5 separate regions of the Homo sapiens genome follow, and regions 1, 2, 4 and 5 are each linked to region 3. Evidence: fine-mapped expression QTL. A gene starts in region 3. Each other region holds a variant in brackets. All regions are shown on one strand. Distances are between the middles of the regions. Region 1 overlaps IRAG2 (inositol 1,4,5-triphosphate receptor associated 2). Region 2 overlaps IRAG2 (inositol 1,4,5-triphosphate receptor associated 2). Region 3 holds the start of IRAG2 (inositol 1,4,5-triphosphate receptor associated 2). Region 4 overlaps IRAG2 (inositol 1,4,5-triphosphate receptor associated 2). Region 5 overlaps IRAG2 (inositol 1,4,5-triphosphate receptor associated 2).

What was found.
Region 1: its variant is fine-mapped to the expression of IRAG2 in whole blood (TOPMed, PIP above 0.99).
Region 2: its variant is fine-mapped to the expression of IRAG2 in breast (GTEx, PIP above 0.99).
Region 4: its variant is fine-mapped to the expression of IRAG2 in whole blood (INTERVAL, PIP 0.99).
Region 5: its variant is fine-mapped to the expression of IRAG2 in esophagus mucosa (GTEx, PIP above 0.99).

The regions. Positions count from the first base shown.
Region 1 is chr12:25,097,035-25,102,143 of GRCh38, forward strand. It overlaps IRAG2 (inositol 1,4,5-triphosphate receptor associated 2), which reads left to right. Exons shown (of 22, transcript NM_001366544.2): 15 at 1-10; 16 at 4,144-4,291. Among named protein-coding and RNA genes, the nearest start is that of IRAG2, 47 kb to the left of the region's middle. The variant T/C (reference allele first, on the strand shown) is at 2,442.
Region 2 is chr12:25,084,218-25,089,326 of GRCh38, forward strand. It overlaps IRAG2 (inositol 1,4,5-triphosphate receptor associated 2), which reads left to right. Exons shown (of 22, transcript NM_001366544.2): 11 at 3,883-3,940. Among named protein-coding and RNA genes, the nearest start is that of IRAG2, 34 kb to the left of the region's middle. The variant C/T (reference allele first, on the strand shown) is at 2,723.
Region 3 is chr12:25,050,413-25,055,521 of GRCh38, forward strand. It overlaps IRAG2 (inositol 1,4,5-triphosphate receptor associated 2), which reads left to right and starts at 2,294. Exons shown (of 22, transcript NM_001366544.2): 1 at 2,294-2,544. RefSeq lists enhancers at 1,649-1,758, 1,799-2,168.
Region 4 is chr12:25,104,077-25,109,182 of GRCh38, forward strand. It overlaps IRAG2 (inositol 1,4,5-triphosphate receptor associated 2), which reads left to right. Exons shown (of 22, transcript NM_001366544.2): 20 at 285-386; 21 at 2,867-2,974; 22 at 3,741-4,259. The coding sequence ends at 3,984. DNAI7 (dynein axonemal intermediate chain 7) reads right to left here. Exons shown (of 16, transcript NM_018272.5): 16 at 4,213-4,747. The coding sequence ends at 4,472. Among named protein-coding and RNA genes, the nearest start is that of IRAG2, 54 kb to the left of the region's middle. The variant A/AT (reference allele first, on the strand shown) is at 2,666.
Region 5 is chr12:25,070,120-25,075,228 of GRCh38, forward strand. All of the region lies in intron 6 of IRAG2 (inositol 1,4,5-triphosphate receptor associated 2), which reads left to right. Among named protein-coding and RNA genes, the nearest start is that of IRAG2, 20 kb to the left of the region's middle. The variant G/C (reference allele first, on the strand shown) is at 2,964.

The DNA.
Region 1 (5,109 bases), 47 kb after region 3:
CATCAATCAGGTAACCTGTCTTCATTTCTCTAGTTAGAATGAAATTACAAAAAAGATTCACTTTTCCTGAGACTATGGATTTCTCACTTCTAGGAATAAGTTTTAAAAAATACTTTTGTTGTATAAGACATATGCGTTTAATACATATGTGTTTAATACAGAAAAAATGGAATATACAAATAAAAAATGTTAAAAAAATATAATACGATCCAGTGACAATCATAAAATTTTTGTGATATATTCTTCAAGATGTATAGTGTTATAATATAGTGTTTATAATCCCTTATATAGTGTTATAATCTGCTTTTTATTCATCATACAACATAGGTAACTTTCTGTGTGATATAATTATATACTCACATGTCACCATTTTATGGTATTCTACTGGTTGAGTAGATATAAATTATTTAACCAATTCCTTGTATTCAATCATTTCAGGATGTTTTTGGTATTTTTCTGTTATAAACAATGCTCCAGTAAATATCCTTGTATATGCATCTGTGTGTATTTGTCCTTAGAGAAGTAGAATTCCAAAATTTCTTTGTGGGCAAACCTGGGGAGATATGAATTTTTTAAATCTATACCTAAGCAGACTTGTTAAAATATATTTTCTTAAGGAGAAATTTAATTGTGGTAGTAATTTTAGTTTGATCATTTGTTATATACTTTCACACCTTAGTTCCTTTTTAACCCCTCACTAGAGAATACTGTTATTCTTTGTTTCATTTTTACTAAAGTTATATATGCACATAGTTTTTTAAAAGGTCAATCAGCTCTATAAGCCTTACTAATTTCCCGTGATCCAGAGAAACAACTTTCAACTTTTTGTCTTATTTGTTTTGTATTTGCATTCACATTTTTCAATAACATGCTCATGCTGCCATTTAGTGATTTATTTTCAGTTTTAGGTATTATCTGTTGCTCTTCCACTACGAAGACAAATATTTAGTTCTTTTATCAATCTCTGGCCCATCACACCTTTTCACTGTCCCTCAAGCTACTGTTGGCCATCCTGCTTTCCTGGCCAAGCTTATACTCCACAGTTAAACATAGTTTTCACTACCTTGCATGTCCCCTCATCACTTACCCCTTTCTTGCTTTGTCTTACTCATTTGGCGAATCTACAAGTAAATCCGCTTCTCCACCTCTCATGCCTGCATAGCTGGAAAATGTCACATTCCCATGCTGACCTGTTTCTCTTTGAATTCATTATCACAAACCTCAAGCGGGTCCTTGGGGCTTCCCCTCAATCACCCTCCTTCTCTTTTAAATATCAATTTCCCACCCTTTCCTTTCTCCTCAAACCACTGTCATGTCTTTCCCCATATTCTCTCTCAAACACAGGTAATGACTGCTTCCAACCTCACTGAGGAAACTGGGACAATCAAAGGAAACTGCCACAAAGCCTCCCAGCGTGTGAATCCTTACACACTCCCTTGCTCTTGTTCCTAAAGATGCGTTGTCTCTAACCCTATCCAAGGCCAGCCTTCCCCACTGTAGATGGGAGCCTTCCCGACTAATTTACTCAGAGTCATGGGACCAAATTCTCCTGACTTTTCTCCATTTACATTTTCTCCACTCTACTGAACCATTTCTATCAGCACACAAATAATATGTTGTTTTCTAGATGGGAATAATAACACAAAACAAACACAAACAAAATAACTTTTTATCCTTTCTTTTCTGGCCACCACCCTGTTTCTCTGCTCCCATTTACAGCAAACCTCGACAGAATGGTACTCACTGTGTTCAGTCTCCCTCCTCCCACGTTCTCTCCAACCCACTCTGTATCAGCCTTTTGCTTCCACAAAGCAGATTTTTCCAAGGTCACTAGTGACCTCCACATTACCAAATTCAGTTTCTCAGTCCTCATCTGGCATGGCTGATGTCTTCCTCTTCCTGGAAATGCTTTCCTCACTTAGCTTCCAGGCACCATGTCCTCTAGCTTTTCTCTACATCACGGGCTGCTCCTTCTAGGCTTCCTGCAGTTCTACCCCTTCTCCTGGACCTCTGAATATTGAAGAGCCCCAGGACTCCACTCGTGCACATCTGATCTCCATGTGCACGCAATCCCCCTGTGATCCCTTGCAGTCACCTGAGGACTCTCAAATTCATATGTTTAGCCTAACCCACTCCCCTGAGCTCCAGAGCAGAGTATGCTACTGCTGACTCAACAGTTCCACTTGGATGTTTGATAAACTCAAACCTACCATTCAAAACTGACTGTTCATGGTCCCCCCACCAAACCTACCCCATGCATAAGCTCCTTACTTCACTCAAGGGCAGCTCTGTCCTTTTAGTTGCTCAGGCCAAAATAGGGGCAGAGGGAGCTGGGGTAATTCTCAACACCTTTCTCTCTCACTTCACATTAAATCCTACAGAAAATCCTATTGGCTGAATTGTCAGAATATATTCAGAATTCAACCATTTATTTCCCTTTC[T/C]ACTGTTACCATCTTGATCTAAGCCTCCATTCTGTTTTGTCCAGATTAATGCAATAGGTTCCTATATGGTCTCCCTGCTTCCATCCAATTCCAATCCCTCCTCCCAACATAGTCTGTTCTTAATAAAGGAGCCAGAGTAATCCTTTTAAAATTAGATTGTGTTACTTTTTGGTTCAGCGTCCTAAAGCTCCTCAGTTTACTTGGGGTAAAACCCAATGTCTTACTGTGGTTTGAAAGGATGTGTGGCCGGGCGCGGTGACTCACGCCTGTAATCCTAGCACCTTGGGAGGCCAAGATGGGCAGATCATGAGGTCAGGAGTTTGAGACCAGCCTGGCCAACGTGGTAAAACCCCGTCTCTACTAAAAATACAAAAATTAGCCAGGTGTGGTGGCACGTGCCTATAATCCCAGCTACTCGGGAGACTGAGGCAGGAGACTCACTTGAACCCGGGAGGCAGAGGTTGCAATGAGCCGAGATCGTGCCATTGCACTCCAGCCTGGGCAACAAGAGTGAGACTCCATCTGAAAAAAAAAAAAAAAAAAAAAAAAATGGGCAAAAGACTTCAATAGACATTTCTTCAAAGAAGATACACAAATGGTCAATAAGCAGGTAAAAAGATATTTAACATCCTTAAATGTATTAGGGAAATACAAATCAAAACCACAATGAGATACCACTTCACACCCACGAGGATGGCTATGGTGAAAGAAGAAAGGAAGTAAGGAAGTTGGAAAGGAAGGAAGGAGGGAGGGAGGAAGCAAAGAAGGAATAGTGTTGGTGAGGATGTGGGGAGATTGCAAACACTGTACGTTGCTGGGAGATGTGAAATGGTCCAGCCACCGTGGAAAACAGTTTGGTGGATCCTTAAAAGTTAAACATAGAATTACCATATGACTCAGCAATTTCATTCCTAGATGTATACCCAGAAGAATTGAAAACAGGCACTCAGATACTTGTACACAAATATTCATAGGACTATGAACATTCCAGATGTTTCACTGGGGTACTCCTAATGTCATTAGTTATAGGACTTTTATCTTAGAATATTAGAATCCCCAGAGAAAAACCTTCCAACTGCCTGCCTTGAGGGTGTAACTCTGGCTGCCAGTGTTTGGAGGCTGGAAGGAGGAATAAGGCTGGATCTCAATATTCAATATGCATATAAGTTGTTGCTTAAATCTGTTGTTTTCAGCATGATAGATCCATCATCAACTATCTGTTCTTTCCCAATCCACAGAACCTCAAGTTAACTCTCTCTAGATATCCAACTGTATGTAGTCTTTCACCAAAATAGTGGAGGGAAAATTGCTGTGCTGGCCACAGTAAGGAAGGAGTCTCTGGACCTAATCTTTTTTTTTTTTTTTACACAGACTTTCAACCATTTCTTCTGTTCACATACCCACCATCAACCTTACTGAGGTGCAGTGTAGGTTGCTTCTAGGCTTTTCTTACTGCCTTTTTTAGGGTTCAGCTTTTCCAGGTCTTAGTCATTTGCCACTAGTCCTTCTATCCAGCTTTCAAAGTCTTGTTGTCATATTCTCTTCTGTTTGCCCCTGTAGATGCATGTCTTTTTAAAAAAAAAACATTTATTGCCACTTTAGTGGGATTTAGGAATGGAGTGAAGGTAAATGTGTTTAATCACCATCTTTTAATTGAGAGTAGTATTTTCAATGTAAATGTGCTCGTTTTTTCTCTTGCTAGGAAAGCCGGGTTAGTAAAGCAGTTGAAGTGATGATTCAGCACGTAGAAAACTTGAAGAGGATGTATGCCAAAGAGCACGCTGAATTAGAAGAACTGAAACAGGTTCTTCTGCAGAATGAAAGGTCTTTCAATCCTCTTGAAGATGATGGTAATAAAAGTTTATGATAATAGTATTAGTTGTGTTTTTCTACATTCTCCTCTTTTTTGCTAAGTCTTATTATTACTTCAGTATAATAAAACTCTTAGGTTAACTTTATATTAGAAAAATAATTCATTCCTGTTATTTATATAGCTAAAAGTGAGGTGTCAGAAAACAGGTTGGGACACATGAAGGATTCTTTAGTAATGACACCAAAAATTTATTAACTCAATTTAGATTACTGAGATGACAGAATATATTTAATCCAACTCATGAAGTTGACCTTAGTGTTCCCCTACTTAGGATACATTAGAATTTCTCCACACGTAAAAAGTAAGGATAAATAATTTAAATGGGCGCTGCCATCAGCAACGGTTTTGATTCCTCACGGAAGGAATGACCCTGGCACAGTAAGCTGATTGATGAACTGGAAAATAGAGAAACATATGAGGCCACGGGGAGTAACATATCGTTTCTATAAATCTTACAATAGTTTTATTTAAAATAAACAATATGAACTTTTCTGAGCAGAATTCTTATTTCAAGAATCTGTTCCCTGTTCTAGAACAGTAACCATATTTGATACTCTTCTGAACTGTACTTTTGGATTCCTTTCTCCAGCAGACACACATGTAGTGCCTACCCTGTGCTAGCTAGGCATTATGGACATCACAGTGACACAGAGGACTGTATTCCATTGGTTAAGATGGTAATTGTTATGAAGAATGAAATGAATGATAAACAGATATTTATATTGCTCGGTAGTCTCTAAAGTCTTAATATCTTCTGAATTTTGCTTTACCTTTAAAGAATTAAGACGTTGCTTT
Region 2 (5,109 bases), 34 kb after region 3:
TTTCTACAAAATATAAAAACAAATCTGCCGGGTATGGTGGTGCTTGACTGTTGTCTCAGTTATATAGGAGGGCAAGGCAGACAGATCACTTGAGCCCAGGAGTTTGAGGCTGCAGTGAGCAATGAGCATGCCACTGCACTCCAACCTGAGCAACAGAGCAAGACCCTGTCTCAAAAAGAAAAAAAAGAGAGAGAGAGAGAAGACTCATTTCCACTTCTATGAATTAATAATCATTAAAGAGTAACTACAGGTCTAATTTCATGATTCTTCAAGGGTCTTGCTTATGTCTTGCTTATGTCTTGCTATGTTGTATGCATGGAGGGGTGTGTGTGTGTGTGTGTGTGTGTGTGTATTATTGTTTTTTTCTTCTCAATATACAAGCATTGTTCTAGTTAAGCATTTGGTTGCAAGAAACAGAGACCCATGCAAGCTAACTCAAGTTAAGAGGAGGCCATGGCACAGACTTGGGGCAAAAAAGTAGATGAAAATTTTTCAGCATTTCATTCTAAAGATAGTGAAATGATTGGATTTGTGATTTGGAACAATGACATGATGTCATTCGTTTCCTTTGTTATCCAGAGGCGATTGATTCCAAGAACCCCACAGATACCAAAATCAGAGAATGCTCAAGTCTCTTATATAAAAATTGCATAGTATTTGCATATAACCTAATGAAACGGGAGAGTTCCCTGATTCCCCTTGCAGGACATGCAGCAGTGGTGTGTCTCACCTGCTTAGTCACCCCATAGTTCAAGCCCCTAGGGGGAACATGCAGACCAGCAGCTGCAGAGGCCAGGGCAAGCGCTTTTGGGCTCTGCCCCCTGGCAGCATCTAGGGGTCAGTGTCTGTGATTCCCAAAGTCCAAGTGAGTGTGTGTTACAAAGCTCTTTCAGATTTGCCATCTGCAGACAGCTTGTGTGTTAATTAGCTCAATGGACCCTCAGCCTTATCACAAGGGCAGAGGGCCAGTGTGACAGCTTTCTGTATCCTGAGCTGTCGCTCAGTGTCCCAAAAGAATCAGATCACACGTGAGCTGGAAGGATGAGTGCAAGGTTTTACTGAGTGGTGGAGGTGGCTCTCAGTAAGATGGATGCGGAGCCAGAAGGGGGGATGGAGTGGGAAGGTGGTATGGAATGGGAAGGGGGTATTCCCCTGGAGTCAGGCTGCCCAGAGGCCATACTCTTCTCCAACTGCCCCAGGCTAAACTCCCCTTGGCATCCAGACATCCCCCCTCTTCTCTCTTTCTCTGCCATGTCATTCCACTATTGTCAGTCTGCCAGTCTGCTGGTCTGCCAGTGTTGTGTGCTCACTTCAGCTGCTTGTGTTGTGTGCCCACTAAGGTCTCGGGTTTATGTTGGCACAGGATGAGGGGCATGGTAGGCCAGAGTGGTCTTGGAAAATACAACATTCAGACACAAAAACAGGAGTGCCTGTTCTCACTTAGGTCTGCAGGCACAGGCCTGAGGGTGGAGCCCTCACTGGGGACCCCGCCTTTCTCTATCCAGCACTTCCCTGCCCACCTCCCATATCACTAACACATCCTCTTATATACTTTAAATCATCTCTAGACTGCTTATGATACCTAATACAGTATAAATGCTATGTAAATAGTTATAATGACAAGAAAGGAAATCTGCGTGTGTTCAGTACAGATACAACCATTGTAGGCCTAACTACATTTTTTTTAGTTAAATCCATAGATGCAAACCCACAAATACAGAGGGCCAGCTGTATAGGTAGGATATAGTGTTGGCTAGCACATATGCTGAAAATGGTTGCTCCTAGTAAAAAATGAACAGAAGAAAACTCAAGTCCTTTACTCTTTCATAGTAGAATCTTCTGAGAGAATAAAATTCCTTCTCATCTCAAAAAAAATATAGACATAAAGACACTTTTTAAAATAATGGATCAATTTGCCATTGGAAGTTGTGGGACTGGTTAGGATACTATGGCAATAATTCAGATGAGATGAAGGTAGTATGAATTTAGTGAAGGTGGAGAAAAGGAGATAAATTTGAGAAATATTTAGGGGTAGAATTCACAGAGGATGATGACATGTCACGGGTATGGGAAACGGTAGATACCCAGGCTTATGGCTTAACCTACCGAATGAATAGAATAACATGACAGTAGGGAAGGAGGAAGGAGAGTAGAATTTGTGGGGTAAAATAAGATCAGTTTGAGACAAGTCAAATTTCAGGCTGATCTGAGACATTGATAGTCGGTAAGGAGATTTTATATACGGCTGCATACCCATATTCATAAACTCACCTGTGCGGTTTTTGAAAGCTGACATATATTTGTGAATTATCAGCAAAAATCCAAGTGTGTGGATGAGATTTCCCAAGGACTGTGGCAGGAAGGAAGGGAGCATTGAGGATAATGGAATCCTGGCTAACAATATCTACTAGAGAAGGCAGAGGAGACTGAGAACGGGCTGTGACGCGGGGCTGGGGCATCAGAACAGGGAAATCAAGGGGAAAAAATCTTCAAGAGGAAAGGATGTATAGATAATTTTAGATGCTATAGTAAGGTCAAGTAAGATAAAGACTGAAAATTATCCACTGGATTTGGCAATAGGGAGTTGATAGCTGGTGAGAACACTTTTCTTGGAGTGCTGTGTAAAGGGGTAGAGTAGTTAATTGATCACGAATGGGAGAGGAAGAGCTAGAAACAGCAGCCACACACAACTCCTTATGTGACCTTAAAACATATCTATATG[C/T]GGTAAAAGCCTAACATAACACTGTCTTAGCAGCCATCTTTGTCACAATTTCTCCAAAAACCTATCTAGAAAACTCCATGTGATAGCCCTATATCACCCACACCTTACCTTTTCATCTATCCAGTCCTACCTCTTCATCAAACTTCAGCATGTTTCTTGTCTGCAGAAATTCCATGCTACTCAAGTCATGGTGTCATGGTGCCACTCTCCTTCCTTTTTTTTTTTTTTTTTTTTTTTTTTTTTGTTGAGACAGAGCCTTGCACTGCTGCCTAGCTTGGAGTGCAGTGGCATGATCTCGGTTCACTGCAACCTCTGCCTCCCCAGTTCAAGTGATTCTCCTGCCTCAGCCTTCAGAGTAGCTTGGATTATAGGCCTGCACCACCACCCCTGGCTAATTTTTGTATTTTTAGTAGAGACGGGGTTTTGCCATGTTGGCCAGGCTGGTCTTGAACTCCTGACCTCAGGTGATCCACCCACCTCAGCCTCCCAAAGTGTTGAGATTACAGGCGTGAGCCACAGCGCCCTGCCATTTCCTTCCTATTAAGAGCACTTGTTTATCTATCTCATTTATTTGGCAATTAATCCTAGTTTGCATTGTTGTAATTCACATCATGTTTGCATCTTTTCATGTATTTACGCCCTTTTTGCTTCAACTAGATTGGAAGCGCCCTTGCAGCCAATTTTATTTCCTTCTTAACAGCATTAAAAACTGTAGAGCAGGGGTCCCCAGTCGCTGCTGAGCCAGGGATCAGAACCCATTCGAGGCTGTTAGGAATTGCGCCGCACAGCAGGAGGTGAGCGGCAGGCCAGGGAACATGACCACCTGACCTCTGCCTCCTGTCAAATCAGTGGTGGCATTAGATTCCCACGAACCCTATTGTGAACTGTGCAAGCGAGCCATCTAGATTGCATGTTCCTTAGGAGAATAACGCCTGATGATCTGAGGTGGAACAGGTTCCTTCAGAAACTGTTTCCCCCTCACCTCACCCCCGTGGAAAAACTGTCTTCCAGGAAACTGGTCCCTGGTACCAAAAAGGTTGGGGACTGCTGTTATAGAGTGTTTTTGTCAGAGTAGGCTTAGGAGAGGACAGGAAGTAGGAAAATGACTGGTTATGAAGTATTTCCACTCTATGTACAGTGGTAAAATCTTATGATTTTAGGAAGCCAAAGAGGAACCAGAAACAATAGAAGAACATAAAAAAGAACATGCTTCAGGAGGTAAGGAATGTTTCTTTCAATCCCCATGTGAACTTTTGTTCTCTGCTGATATTTTTGTGGGTGAAATCTGTCTGAATAAAGCTATGTCACTTACAAATTCTGCATCTCTGGATAAGGTCAGTCAATAGGACCGATTATTGATTCCATTTGTGTCATTTTCAAAAAGCCACATTTGCATTGTGTTGACTGTGCGATCCCAGAAAACCTGTAATAACTGGTGCTCTATTGTGAACTAAGAACCAAGCGAATGTTGGTAGCAAATGCTATGCTCTACTGTTAGTTCTTTTTTAGTATCCCATCTAAAAGTAAAGCCCCTATTTACAGAATAAGTGCTAATATGCTTTTCCCCTTAGCCTACCTCCATTGGGATGGAATAGTGGATAGAGTTCAGGCTTTGGAGTCATAGAGACTCTACATGGGATCAATCTCTGACTAGCTATTGATCTTGGAAAGTTACTTAACCTTAAGTCTCAATTTTCTCATTTGCAAGAGGAAAATGAAAAGAAGAAAAGTACACTTAATTGAGAATATATTCTATGCTGAGAACTAGGCTAATTTCATGTGCATAGTTTTATTTAGTCCTCCAAATACTATGTGAGGTGGTAAATTGTGATTCAGTTGCCTAGCCTATAAAATGTGGACAATAAAAGTATCTACAACAGAAGGTTTGCTGTGAGGATTGAATAAATTAATATGTATGAAGCACTTAGAAAAGTGGCACCAAAGTTCTCATAAAAGTTAGTTACTATTATAAAAAAATCAATCTTATCTTAGATGATAAGATATCTTTATCTTATCAATCTTATCTTAGATGGCTTAATGACTTTGTGACTTGTTCAAGCTCACATAACTGTAAGATTCAAACAAAGCTCAGACTTAAACCAAGTTTGTTTGACTTTAAATCCAATGCTCTTAATAACTAATACATAGTCCTTGGTAAAGTTGTCATAAAATCATATGTGTAAAATGCTTTGCTCTGTGATTGGCAATATAATAAAGCCATGGTTGATGCCATGTTTATTGTCACTGTTATTGTTACCAGTATTATTATTACTACTATTATTATTACTACTACTGTTCCTGCTACTGCTAATAAAGCCTTGATCCAAAGAAGAACCAGGATACCAGTAGGAGGTTTAGGCTTTTAGCCATGGGATCAAGTATAGCAA
Region 3 (5,109 bases):
CAGCTACCCGGGAGGCTGAGGCAGGGGAATCGCTTCAACCCGGGAGCCAAAGGTTGCAGTGAGCTGAGATCGCGCCAGTGCACTCCAGCCTGGAGACAGAGCGAGACTCCGTCTCAAAAAAAACAAACAAACAAACAAACAAAAAAAAACAGTTACAGAGTTTTCTCAAAATATTAAAAATTAAACTACCATCTGATCTAGGAACCCCACTTCTGGGTATTTATCCAAAATAATTAAAATCAGCACCTGGAAGAGCTATTTGCATTCCCATATTCACTGCGGCATTATTCTCAATAGCCAAGATTTGGAAACAACCTGAATGTCCACGGATGATTGGATAAAGAAAATTTGGTATATAAATACAAGGGAATATTATCCAACCTTTAAAAAGAAGGAAATTCTGCCACATATGACAACATAGATAAACCTGGAGGACACTATCCCAAGTAAAATAAGTGAGTCACAGAACAACAAATACTGCACGATCCCACTTCTCTGAGGTATCTAAAATAGTTAAACTAATAGAAAGAGAGAGAATAGTGGTTGCCAGGAGCTAGGGGAGGGGAAATGAGGAGTTGCTACTCAATAGGTATAAAGTTTCAGTTATGCAAGATGAAGATGTTCTAGAGATCTGCTGTACAACATTATGCCTGTAGTTAATAATACTGTATTGTACACTTAAAAATTTGTTAAGTGGGTAAATCTCCTGTTAAATGTTCCTGCCACAGTTAAAGAAAAAGAGAGAAAAAGAGAGTGAGAGAGACAACGATAAGCTATTGAAGGACGCTCAGTGGAAAGTGTGGTGATGTAGGCAGTTTTTATTTTTGCTTAGGATTTTGTTTGCTTGTTTACCAGTATGGTAAGCATTCTGTGAGACCATTCTTGCCTCTCATGTGGTCCTTCGTGTAACCAGGGCTGGATTTGTGCCAGTGTGCAGTGGCATTCTGACTAAATGTTAACGTTTGAGAGGCATGCACAAGGCCTACGGCTGACAATGTCTTCCTTGCTGTTTTGCAACTCCCGACATTTATCACCACTTTGAGTTAAGGTCCATATTCAAGTCAGATTGTTTCCAGATAATCATTGAGGTACTGGCATGTAACACACATTAAATAATCTCATCTGCTAACAGAGAGTAAGTGCATTTTTACATGTTTTAGAGATTAGAATTGGATCCAAATGAGGTGTAACGTAATGGCACCATGAGATCTGTGGTGGGGAAGGGTGATGGGGAGAAAAGCTTCAGCAAAAAGAGGACTAAAGTAGAAATATCAACCGCCAGCTTTCATCTGTGCCTGGGGGCGGTCCTTCCTGTGCTCGTGGCACGTGTTTATACTATGATTGACAACCCTTAAGGAGAAAGGCTAAGGTCATGAAACAAAGCTCTCTTTCCTTTTCTTTTCCCTCCCCCTACCTTTACCCCATTCCTTTCTTTTTCTGTAAAAGCTAGCTGTGATGTGTAAATGTTGCACCTGTCACCCTGACCTCATTGTAGAGCCATCTTCTGAGTAACTGGCAACTGGCAACTGATGCTAAGTGCTATGAATGCAGCTGGTGGGAACTGAACACACCAGTGTAAAAGATGAAACTAGAAGTCCTTATCTGTAAAGTGAGGGTGTCAGGCTAAGCGACCAATAAGCTTTGCTTAAGATTTTATATTTGTGAAGCATTTATATGTAAATACTTTCACTTTTTCCTCTGATCTCTAAGGAAGTGGTGTTAAGTTTGAGTTTGTCATAATTTCACAGGGTGACTCTTAGTTGAAATGTCACTGACAGCTTGCGGTTTGGACTTTTTTTTTTTTTTTTTTTTTTAACTCCAGTCAGAAACAACTAGAAGCCATTAAACAACTACAGGAAGATGCTGTCAACCAGGAAGGCATCCTTAGGAAGAGGCTCCAAGAAACCAGCCAACGGCTGGAGGATGTGGAGGAGCAGGTAGGGTGGCTCATGGCTACATTAGATTCAGGGGACATCTCCTCAGATGCCCTGCAAACCATGAAATAAAAATGGAGGAGGAACAACAACAACAAACAAAAAAAAAAAGCAAAGAGGAACTGCAAGTTCAGTCCCTAGCGACTAACAGTGAGCAGAGGAAGTAAAGGGGGAGTTGTAAGAGAGGCGGTATCAACAGCCTGCTGATGAAAGAGGCGACTCTGCAGAAAGAGGCAACTTGACATATCAGGACTTTAACCGCTGTAGAAATAGCTCAGGCATACCAAGCCCATGCAAACACAGAATTGCAGAAGTTCAGGAGAGGCTTATCACTTCCCTGAGAAGAAAAACACATTTTCAGTTTTGCCTGCATCATAAGAGTGAGCACTCCATTGCTTTCTTTCCTGGCCACACTGCTACAATCCAGCACTAACTATCCATGTCCAGGGTAAGGATCGAGATCGAGAAGCCCACACTGCCAGTGAAAAAGCTACGTCTTTACTGCATAAATTAGAGGAAGCAATTTCGGAACAACGGAACCTTCAAACTATAAATACTGAATTATCGAACACTTGCCAGGCACTTCAGCAGAAGACAAGGAAACTGAAGAGTGAGTAGCAAATATTCATTTATGACCCAGTTTTTGTCCACCCTCAGGCGGGGCATAGGACTACAGACATTTTTCTAGATTACAGCTAGGATATTATTCCTGAGTTTATGACAATGAAATGGTTTGAGAAGGCAATATTGTGGGGCTTTCAGAGAGGTTTGCTGAGTGGCTAGGTGCATGCATGGGTTTAACCATTAACTTCCCTTTTTGCCTTTTTATTATAAGCTGGTTTTGTCTGTGGCTGTTTTTTTCTTTTAAAATTAATTAAAACTTCTCAAAATTTCTAAAAGTAAACAAGGAGAAAAATCTAGTATGCATGGTATATTTGAACTTGCAAGTTGTTATATATTATACTCTGATTTTATTAGCTAGTTTTTTTCCTCTCATATGGTAGAAAAGGCCTTGCTCGTCTATTTTCTTTGGAAATTTTAGGGGGTTGGGCAAAATAATTATGAATTCAGTGTATATCAAAATATCAAATGTGTGAAAATTCTTTTAAAGTTTTAATGCATTCTCTACATACATCTACATACATATTTTGCATTTTAAAAATTGGAATATTTGTCATTTTTCTGTATTACCCAAAAGTATATAAACAGTTACCAGAGATTTATGTGAGAAGACAGTTGTCACATTACAGATGTCAGATTAGCTATAAAATTGTTTCATTCTAGAAACCTAATATGGTAAAAATAAACCTTACTTATTTAGCCATTTATCAGACAATTGCTTTTGTTCAGCCAGTTTCTTGTTCTAGCAGTATAAATATTCTTTTTATAGAAAGTTACTTGGTTTGAGAAATAAACATTGTTTATTTGTTAATTGTTATATAATTATAAATAATTATATATTTAATATATAAGCTTAAGGTAGGCTAGAGATGAAAAATTTCAGACTTGTGTTTGTTTTGGATTTATTGTACCCTTTCTACTATTATCTGAGAAAGCTATTTAGGAGTTTAAGAAATAGTCTAGTTTTAAAATAGCAATGGTTTGCCGGACACAGTGGCTCACCCCTGTAATCCCAGCATTTTGGGAGGCCGAGGTGGGCAGATTGCTTGAGCCCAGGAGTTTGAGACCAGCCTGGACAACATGGTGAAACCCTGTCTCTACAAAAATTACAAACAAATAAATAAATAAAACATTAAAATAGCAGTGGTTATTCAACATATTATTGTCATAATTTTTAAACCTTTATTGAATTTGCCAGTTTTCAATATTCTGATTCACTCTGTTAAGCTAGTAAGGCAGTCTTTAAATTACACAGTCTGTGTGTTATTTTACTACTGCTCAGAGGGCATTGGAGAAGGTTCCCTTGTGATTAGAACTGTTCATGTTGAGACATGAATCATAAGGCATTCCAAAGTTGGTTTAAGGTGTGTCTGCTTTAGACACTGTGCCCAGGACTATTCTTTTGCTCCAGTTTTGCCTTTTGATTAAATCAATATTATACCTGAGTTTTATAAACTACTAAGAATTTGTTCCCCTTCCTCACTGTGATTTTCTTGCAGTATTTTCTTAGAAGAGTCAACTTTAATAACTTACCCCAAAGTGCACGTTCTTGATATTATGAACTTGCTATTGTTGTCTTCCCAGTTTATCTTCACGGCCCAATAGATTCAAATACACTTAAAAGCAGAATATGAAAGCTGCCCTGGGTTGATACGTGTATTTTTTTCTGCCTGGATAACGTAGAGTGGACACTTCCTTTCTGTCTTGAGTTATGCATAACCTGTCCAGATTTATGAAATCCCTTACTTGTTACTTGTATCTTTTGCTGCCCAAAAAACCCATACAAATCAGGATTTTGCTTATATGACCATGTACTTACGATCTTTCTAACAATGCCCTTTAAATTCAATCTTTGAGAGAAGAGGGAAATTTAGATAGCACGTATTTTCAAAATGTTCTATATAGCAGATGTTCCAGATAGACTGCAAACAAATGTCAATGACTGCAGTTATCACACAAACACGTCCACGCACATCCCGCCATGACCACTGCCACCCCATGCTGTTTGATTTCTGAGTCAGACATCTGATTCTGAGTCAGAAAACAAAACATATTTATATCTATTTAGCTTTTCTGAAACTCTCTGGCTAGTTTAATAAATTCACAAAGTATTTCAGACAATTGTTTTCTGATCCATCTAAGTTGCATCAGCACATTGTGTGGGGATGCAGCTGGTTTGTCCAAATGTTCAGATCAATGTGCATAATGTTCACACTACAACTGGAAATTTATATGTGATGTTTGATCAGAAATCCTGAACTTTATCTTGAATAAATGATATTGTTCAAGTTTTCAATTGCCTTCAGGACTGGGCTGATTTATGAGGCAATTCATGTGCATGATATTCTTCAAGAAATGTGCCATGAAAACTGTTCAATTGCTTGAATGGTTACTTATATATTTTATTTCTTCTGCATCTAAACTTTGTTTATATCCAAGTATCTTGTTAATAGACACATGACTGGATTATAATTAGTGTTTGCTTTAAAAAGGAAATTTTTTTTATTATACTTATGTTCTAGGGTACATGTGTACAACGTGCAGGTTTGTTATA
Region 4 (5,106 bases), 54 kb after region 3:
TTCCTCTTTGGGAACCTTACTATTTTATACTTGGGCTAACCTAAATGAGTGCTCAAATTAAGTGATATAGTAATGTTTGATTTGTACAAAGTGTAAACAGAATAATTATATAAATTGGTATCTAATTATGAAGTTTTTTATCATAAAGTAGGAGATCTGTGAATGTGCCAAGAAAAAAATAATTAGGACATATAATTTTGTATTTACTTAAGCAGTAGGAAATAAATTGATAATGGCTACAGATGTATTTGATTTGACAAGTGGCTATAATCATCTTTATTTAGGCGTATTTTGGGGTCAAAGCAGAGTGAACACCGTCCCTCATTACCTCGATTTATTAGCACCTATTCCTGGGCAGATGCTGAAGAAGAAAAATGTGAACTAAAGTAGGTGAAGCTCAGTGTGTTTATTAACCTGACATGAACTGGGGCATAAACAATGGGAATCACTTTTATTCCATGGAGATGAAATAATGCTGTATAATTAAAAAGATAATTCATTGTAAAACACTTTTATAAACTGTAAAGCACAATATAAGTGTTATTTGTGAATATTAATACATTCACTCTCATAGCTCTCAGAATGGCAAAGTTTGAGGTCTTAAGTTAGAAAAGACCCTGGAGTTTGCCATATTTGTGAAGATAATTTTTTTCCTGTCCAGGTGTCTGTCTACAATGGGGAAAGGTCAATAAAGAGCCACAGAAGTAAAATGTCCATCTATTTATATATTTTTAAAAACATGAGATATATAACGTACGTATTATATAACATATAGGCACATATGTAACATGTATGTACATCTATCTATCTTCCATTTATGTAAGTGAAGAGTAGAGGAAACATGAAATTCTGAATTGCTATCTCTGTATCTAGTAAACTAAACAAATATACTTCTACAGTGAAAGGTAGAGGGCAAGAAGGAGGGATATGCAGAAATGCTACCTCTGAGTCCTTGGGTGACATTAGAAAAAGTGCCTAACCTTACTTGGTCTCAGTTTTTTTTTTTTTTTTTTTTTTTGAGACGGAGTCTTGCTCTGTCACCCAGGCTGGAGTGCAGTGGCGCGATCTTAGCTCACTGCAACCTCCACCTCCTGGGTTCACGCCATTCTCCTGGCTCAGCCTCCCAAGTAGCTGGGACTACAGGCGCCCGCCACCACGCCCGGCTAATTTTTAATATTTTTAGTAGAGACGGGGTTTCACTGTGTTAGCCAGGATGGTCTCGATCTCCTGACCTCGTGATCCGCCCGCCTCGGCCTCCCAAAGTGCTGGGATTACAGGCTTGAGCCACTGCGCCCGGCCTTCAGTTTTCATATCTGTTAAAGTGAAGGATCTTAAGGAGATGATTTTATGTTTATTTATTTTATTTTATACATTTTCGTGAGTGCCTACCATGGGATGGACACTCTGCTCAATTCTAAGGAATATAAAGATGAGCATGACATGGTGCAATCCTCAAATAATCTGTTTTGGTTTTTTTCTTTTTTTTAAAGTCCTGGGAGCCTACTGCATGTGTTACAAACTCTTTTCAGATTTAGAGTTAACATAATGAATTTGAGCTGGTTGGAAAAAAAAATCAGTTCAAGAGTCTCCTTCAAAAGATTATCTAGTTTTTGCTTTTTGTTAGTATGGTATGATTTCTACTGAGAAGTCTTTGTAAACAAGACTGAAACCTTGAGAATCTTACAGAAATGCAATGCAATTTATTCTGGCTTTTGGGTCTTGTTTTCTTTAAAAACTAAAGTCTATCATATTTATTTCCCATAGATGTTTGAATGAAAAAAAAGTCTTTGAGACACATTTCCCTTTGGCAATTCTGAGGGTATTATGAGCTTGAGATTTCAAAATTCAAATCCAACTAGGAACTCATCAGCAAATATAGTGGAACAATTATGTTTTGCTTAGGTGGAAGAACACCTCTTTAAATAATATGATTTGATTTAAAATGCAGTCAATCAATTGCTATTTCCCAGTTCACTGAATACTAATTTATTTTAACCAGTTTTATACTGAGAATATTTTCAAAAACACGTTTTAAATTATTAAGATTTTCAGAGAAAAACTCTGATGTTACTCCAAGTTAGCACTGATTGGAAATCATACAGAGAAAGGAATAAAATCAATAATAATGAGAAAAGATTTTTACTAATGTTAAATAAAATTTAAAAGGAAGAGATATGGTGCCCACATTTGTTTTATATATACACATACACACACGCACACACAGGTATATGTACACATCCATATACAAAACATATATACAACATATACATACATATTTTTATATATATAAATATATATATTATGGAATATGTGTGTATATATTATAAACTTTGTATAAGCATATATTAATATGCATATATTATATGTAGATATGTGTGTATATATTATATATAAATATGTGTATATATAGTATATATTTATATATACTGCACTCCAGCCTAGGCAACAGAGTTTCTTCTCCAGCCTAGGCAGAGTTTCTCTGCATATATATATGCAGAGAAAGAATTCATAGTAATAACATTGGTTAATGATGAGACTAACTTCTGAAAGTTCTTTTTAAATTTTCCCTTTTTGTATATACTTGGCTAATATTCTATTGTATATACTTGGCTAATATTCTAACTAACTTTCTACACATTTATTATTTTTCTAAATAGAAGAACTT[A/AT]TTTTTAATTAAATTTCTATAAAAGGTTTAAATTATAAATCTGGTGATTTGATTTTTAGAGTTAGATATTTATCGACTTTCCCTAAAACAGAACAAATATTTGTGAGCCTCTTGAGTTACAGTAAGATTCAGCAATATTTTATGAATAATTATAGCATATTATCCTTAGTTTCAAATATTAAAAACAACATTTATTTACAGAACTAAAGATGACTCAGAGCCATCTGGAGAAGAAACAGTAGAAAGGACAAGGAAGCCAAGTCTTTCTGAAAAGAAAAATAATCCATCAAAGTGGGATGTCTCTTCAGTGTAAGTTATCTACTTGATAAATTCTACCATTTTAGTGGAATGGGAAAGGGTGAGGCAGGGCTGACAGTATTAATCCTAATCAAATTACTAAAAGACATGCCAAATTGTTGTATTTAAGATGAATAACAAACTTTGTATGTCAGGTTATCCTTGAACCTATGTTATCTATTTTGAGAGACAGACTACATTCACATAACTTTTACTGTAATATATGTTATATTCTATTTTATGTTAGTTATTGTTCATCTTTTACTATGCCTAATTTATAAATTCAATTTTGTTATAGGCATGTATCCATAGGAAAAAAACAGTATATACTGGGTTTAGTACTATTTTCAGCTTCAGGCATCCACTGGAGGTCTTGGAGCATATCCCACAAGAATAAAGGGGGACTACTGTACACACACATAAGTACATACACAGACATCCACTCTACCCAGCAAATAACATTTTTGTTTCCACTGTAGGAATATGTTGCCTTACCTTACTGAAAGAATGAGATACTTGTATGTACTTATTAGAAGATACTGCCTACATCACGTAATTTTCAGATTCTCATCGTAGCACATCATTTCTTTAATCCTAATAGGTACAAAGGGTGGGAGGCAGATTGTTTCCAAAACCAAAATGATAAATCATAATATGTAGATTAAAAGGCAGTTTTGGGGGTATGAAGGGCAGATCACCTGACTGGTGGTGTTAGCAAAAGGAATGTTTCTAATGACAAATTACCGATTACCAAATTCTATTTGTGTTTTCCTTATAGTTATGACACAATAGCTTCCTGGGCAACAAATCTCAAGTCCTCCATCAGAAAGGCTAATAAGGCCCTCTGGCTCTCTATTGCATTCATTGTACTGTTTGCAGCTTTGATGAGCTTCCTCACAGGCCAATTATTCCAGAAGTCTGTGGATGCCGCTCCCACACAGCAAGAGGACTCATGGACGTCTCTAGAACATATCTTGTGGCCATTTACCAGACTCCGACACAATGGGCCACCACCAGTGTGACAGCAGGACATCCTAATATATGGATCTTGATTTTTAAGTTTCAGTATCTGAACTTCGTAAATTAGTAACTTTTAGCTGGGAAAGTATAGCATGAAACCAGAGGTTCTCAGAATGACTGTAAGATAGCTTACATTTCCTCTTTTTGCCTTTATCTCCCCAACTAAAATACAATGGGGAAGAAGTCTGCCTATGATCTTTGAATGAGCTTTTTAAGGAAGAAATATTATATATTGTTTGTTAAAGTTTATTGAAATAAAGAATCATTTAAATCTTCATAGAGTGAAAGCTGAAATTCTTAACAGGCCAAGTATTCAAAGGAAAAAAAAATACTGTTTTTAAAATAAAACTTGAGTAGAAAATGCAGATTAGAAAATTTTTAATAGTTGATTTGAAATGTATTCATTCACTCATTACATTGTGTTGCAGAAATACCTGTCTTTCACCATGCTTGGTTCTTCATACTTACAATACAGTTTGTAAGTGGAGGTTAGGAGTAGCTGAGCAATCTGGTAGAGAGCAGCATGTGGCACACAGAGTTGACAAACTGACAGTTGGAACTCCTGACTTTCTCCATTGCTTCCTCAGAAGCAAAATCCTTCACCATGTGATATAAAGTAGAATGAAACTCAGTTTCTTCTTTAAGTGCTTCAGAAAATGCCTCACTCTCTTCCTTGATCTTCAGTCTTTGTGCTCTGTCACCACTAAACATTAAAAGGGCCCAATTAGGATTCTCAGTACATGCTTCAGTAAGGTGTTCCCTCACCTAAAAAAAAAAAAAATTCAAGCAAGTTGTTAATAATTCCTCTTCTATTCAGTATTTTGGTAGCAGATTATTATTTGAAGGGCTCAATTTATCCCCCAAAATTGCAAAGGTTAAAAGAAACAGTCTATGTGTTCCATTACTGGGTTTTGAAAAACCATCACACTGTTTATATTTTGGTGATTATGGAGCTTATCCACATGTATTAATTCATGCAACAAATATTTATTGAGTGCCTATCATGTGTGAGGTACTGTTCTAAGTGCTGGGGATATAACAGAGAAAGAAAACACAGAAGAAATATAGACATACAACATATATAAATAACAACTGCAACAACAAAGCCCTGCCCTCAAGGGGCT
Region 5 (5,109 bases), 20 kb after region 3:
CACCCACCAGACAATTCATTAATTTAAATTATTCACTTAAATGACTTTCAGTATATTCACAGAGTTGTACAACCATCACCACAATCGGTCTTAGAATACTTTGATCACCCCAGAAATAAACTGCGTACCCATTGGTAGTCTCTCCCTATTTCCTCCTGTCCCCAACCCCCAGCTGGAGGCAACCACTAATCTACTTTCTGTCCTATAGATTTGCCTATTCTGGACATCTCATATAAATGGATTCATACAATATATGGCCTTCTGTGCCCAGCTTCTTTCAGTTAAGGTTCTCAAGGTTCTCAGCATAAGGTTCTCAAGATTCATCCATGTCATAGCATGATATCAGTACTTCATTCATTTTTATGGCTCAATAATATTCCACTGTATAGATACACACCACATTTTGTTTTTCCATTCATCAGCTGATGGGCATTTGAGTTGTTTTTACTTTTTGGCTATTGCAAGTGATGCTATTATGAGCATCAGTGTATTGGTTTTTGTGTAAACATGTTTTTAATTCTTTTGGGTGTATTCCTGTGGCAGAGTTACTGCATCATATGGTAACTCTATGTTTAATGTTTTTGAGGAACTGCAAAACAGACTTCGAGGGTGGCTATATCCTTTTACATTTCCAACAGCAATGTATGAAGATTCCGGTTTCTCTGTATCCTCATTAAATATTTGCCTATTTTTTATTAAAGCCATCTTTGTGGGTGCAAAGTGATACCTCACTGTATTTTTGATTTGCATTTCTCTCATGATTAATAATGAACATCTTTTCATGTGTTTGTTGGCCATTTGTATAACTTCTTTGGAGACAAGTCTACTCAGATCCTTTGCTCATTTTAAAGATGGGATTATATTTCTTTTCACTATTGAATTGTACAAGTTGTTGTTATTCTTCCTGTTGAGTGGGTATATGGCATTGTTTTTGTTCATAAATACCTGTCTGAGCAGCTAAGAAAAAGGAAATGAATCTATTTTGCTCTTACCTAGAGGCCAAGGTGGGCGGATCACTTGAGGTCAGGAGCTCAAGAACAACCTGGCCAATATGGTGAAACCCCATCTTTACTAAAAATACAAAAATTAGGTGGCGGGCACCTATACTCCCAGCTACTTGGAAGGCTGAGGCAGGAGAATTGCTTGAGCCCAGGAGGCAGAGGTTGCAGTGAGCCGAGATTGCGCCACTGCACTCCAGCCTGGGTAACAGGAAAAGACTCCATCTCAAAAAATAAAAATAAAAATAAATTGAAAATTTTTAAAAATATATCTTGCTCTTACCTAGCAATTCTTATAAAGTTTTAGTAAAGGAAGTTGAACTTGGAAGCTTACAGGATGTTTGGTTATTAGTAATTTCCCTTTTATCTGGCACCGAGTTTACCAAGAAGAAGGAAGAAACAAATATCAGTTGTGTGCCAGGAACTTTGTACAAAAGCATTCCCACATGCCATGTGATTAATCTGCTCCACACTTCTCTGCTTTTTACAAAGGAGGCAACTGAAGTTGAGGGAGTTAAATAACTTGCCCATGATCACTCAATTAATAAATAACAAACCTGGGATTAAAATTCAGATTTGTCCAGCTTCAAAGGATACAGGCCTTTGTCATGGCTACTCTTAGTACACTGAATTTAGACATTTTAATCATAATTACTTAGCATTACCTTGAAAGTATTTTTTTTTTTTTTTGGCTAAGAAATGTACTGCCTTTTATATCTAAAAGGACCTCCATATTGACTCTTATTAGGATATGTGACTGCGTGGTTTTGTCTGTGCTTCACACCCATTAAGAAATAGGAGCTGGGCTGGGCGCAGTGGCACACGCCTGTAATCCCAGCACTTTGGGAGACCGAGGCAGGTGGATCACCTGAGGTCAGGAGTTTGAGACCAGCCTGGCCAATGTAGTGAAACCCAATTTCTACTAAAAAATACAAAAATTAGCCAGGCATGGTGGCAGGCGCCTGTAAAACCAGCTCCTTGGGAGGCTGAGGCAGGAGAATCACTTGAATCCGGAAGGAGGAGGTTGAGTGAGCCGAGATCGTGCCATTGTTCTCCAGCTTGGGCGACAAGAGCGAAACTCCATCTCAAAAGAAAAAAAAAGAAAGAAAAAGAAAAAAAAGAAATAGGTGCTAACAGACATCACAATCGAGCCTCCAGTCACATGCTCCTGTAAGTTCCCTGAAGATTTTCTTGTGTCTTCTGTAGTTTGCAACAGCCCAGGAATTAGTCTGTTGGCTGCACCTTCTGACTGATCCCACCAATTCTCAACCTTCCCATTCCAGGTTTCTGCTCCACTGGAGAATCTCAACAGCCTGGTAACTGTACTCTCTGCCTCTGACCCTTGTCCCTTGAGCAACTCCCCACCTACCATCATTTTATACTCACATTATCTCTTAAGAAAATAGAAAGCTCTCCTTAGAAAACGCTTTTCTAAGCATTGTCATTGGTAATAATTACAGGGAATTAGAGTAAAATATAAGATATAAATTATTTTAAAAACATAATATATGTTTATCATCCCAGTGGACACCCCAGACGATGGGTGTTTTCTTAACTCCTTGTCTCTAAATGATGGATTCTGTCAATCTCTACAGCCTTATAACAAACAACTTGACCTGGTATTGGAGTCCCTCTCTAAACTGGTTGCAGTCTACCTTTTTACCTTTATTTCCCCATTGTTGTGTATGGTTGTGCCTGTACGTCAGCCAAACCAGGTAGCCTATATTGTCAGAATATATCACGCAAACGTGTTTGTGCTGTTTTCTTTGCCCAGAACAATGTATGCTTTTCCATTTATCAAAATTCTATTAGACTGTCAAGCCCCATTTCAAAAACCAATAAAAACTTTTTTTGTGGTAGCATAAAATGTTGACATTCAAGCATCTCCAGTCCTTCTTGAGGTGGAAATCATAATGGATTAAGAGTGGGGAGATGAGGTTTTTCTGTGGGTTGGCCTCTGTGTGA[G/C]TCTGGGAAAGTCGTGTTTTCAGGCCTGTTTCCTCATTTCTCAATGATCCAACTCAGAAAAAAACTAAGCTCACTTCCTTCTTTAAGACCCTTGTAATTCTCTGTGCCCCACATTTCTTGTCATCTGTATGCTGGTTTGCATTGTAGTTATTTATTTTCTTATATTTATTTGTGTATTAGGTGATAAAATTGCTGGACAGTACCTTTATTTGGCCATTAACCAATGCGCATGTAGCACCCTGCATAGGATTATATACAGTAGCTGCCCAATAATATTTGTTGAATGCCTATTTATTTAGGTTGTACTCACTACAACGTCTGTTTAAAACACTGAGAGTGAGCACTCAATTAGCTTACTGCTTTCTGACTCATTTCTTGGGCTGGTGCTCCTAAGAACTTGAGATTTACTTTCTGTTCCTTCCCCATATTCACAGAGGAAGCTGTCTTCTAATATCTTTCCCAGAAGGCACAGTGCAATATAAAAGTGAACATCATTATTCATAAGCAGGTCTTTGGGAGAGCAAAGAACGCTAACAAGGTTAATGTCTCAAAAAGAACATCTCAAAGTAAAATAATTTGGAGCCCTGTTTGGGACATTCTTGAGGAAGAAAGAACTTCTTTATTCACCCAATAAATTAGTTTATTTGGGATATTCTGGTGTAGTTAGGAAAGAAGGAAACAAATTATTTCCAGTCCTTATCTTTTGGAGATTCATTCTGAAATATTTACGGATAAAAATGTTATGATGTCTGCCATTTGCTTCAAAACAAGGTTTAGAGGGTGAGAGTTTGAAACAAGATTGGCCATAGGTTGGTAATTGTTGAATCTGCATGACGGATATACCAGGATTCATTAGATTCTTTGTTTTGTCTACTTTTGTATTTATCTGAAATTTTTCCTAGTAATGCTCTAGAATCTTTAGCCACATAGCATAGGCTGTAGAATGAAGCACATCTAGATTGAAGACTGGCTTTATTACTTATTAGCTGTGTGAACTTGGACACATGACCTAACCTGTCTGAATTTGCTGTGTCCCCTGTGAAATAGACATTGATTTTCATAGTTCTTTTGAGGATTCAAATAAACACACACAAATACTTTACATATATACATATATTTCCACATATCTGTATCACTGAGTTCTGGCCTAACCTGTCCATGGAAACAAACCAACTAGGTCATATGTAGAGGCAAGACACTGCCTCTCAATGCCTTGTTTCCCCACTTGCTGATGACTAAGAAGGCCTTTCCTTTCATGGAGTCATTTCCCAACATTTCCAGTGAGTTCCAGAGGTGAATACCAAATATATCCCCATGTTCTTCAGGCCTCACCGACTAGTGGCTTCCATGCAGACTTTTAACCTCTCGAGAAATTGTGGGGCCAAGAAGTTGGTTTCACGACTCATGTCTCTGCAGTTCTTTTGGTTTGTTGTCCACACTGTCCTATGACAACAAAGTTGATTCTTCCTTCTATCTTACTTCAGTCTCAACTCTGACCCCACCAAGATACTCTGTAACATACGCAAAATACCTGAATCATAGTAAAACCTCAAAAAGAAAATTAGCTGGTCATATTTCCCAGAATCAGAATTATCAGCAGCATGAAGGCCAGAGTATATCTTGAAACAAGCCAATGATTTGGAGATGAATTTCTCTGTTTTTCTTTTGGCTGTTAAAAAAATTACATATACCAAATATTAAGTGTCTTGTCTCTCTTTGCGTTATCCTTCATGTTATTACATGCTTTTGTCTAAGATGTACTATCACTGGGAGGCGGTGATTTATTAAGGCCAAGAACAGGATCAATTTAAAAATATCTCAGAAGATTTTCTGGCTATTGTCTGTCCTGTTCTTCCAAGTTGTATGTGGGTGCAGCATTAATAACCTTGGAGAATAAATAACATTGCCAGTTGCAAAATTGGAACATGTAGAAGTTGACTGATAACTATATTATAAATGAACCTGAAAGTGGTGGGTGTAACCTGTAGATCTGAGGGTGTGGTATACCTTTAGTTAGAAAGAGAAAAAATAAATGCAAACCTATAAGCAAATTTAGCTTTGTTTAGGTTCCAGTAGTTCTAATCTTTTAAAATTCAACTTAGCATTGTTCCTCTTTTTGGAACATTTAAACAGACGCTGAGTCAAG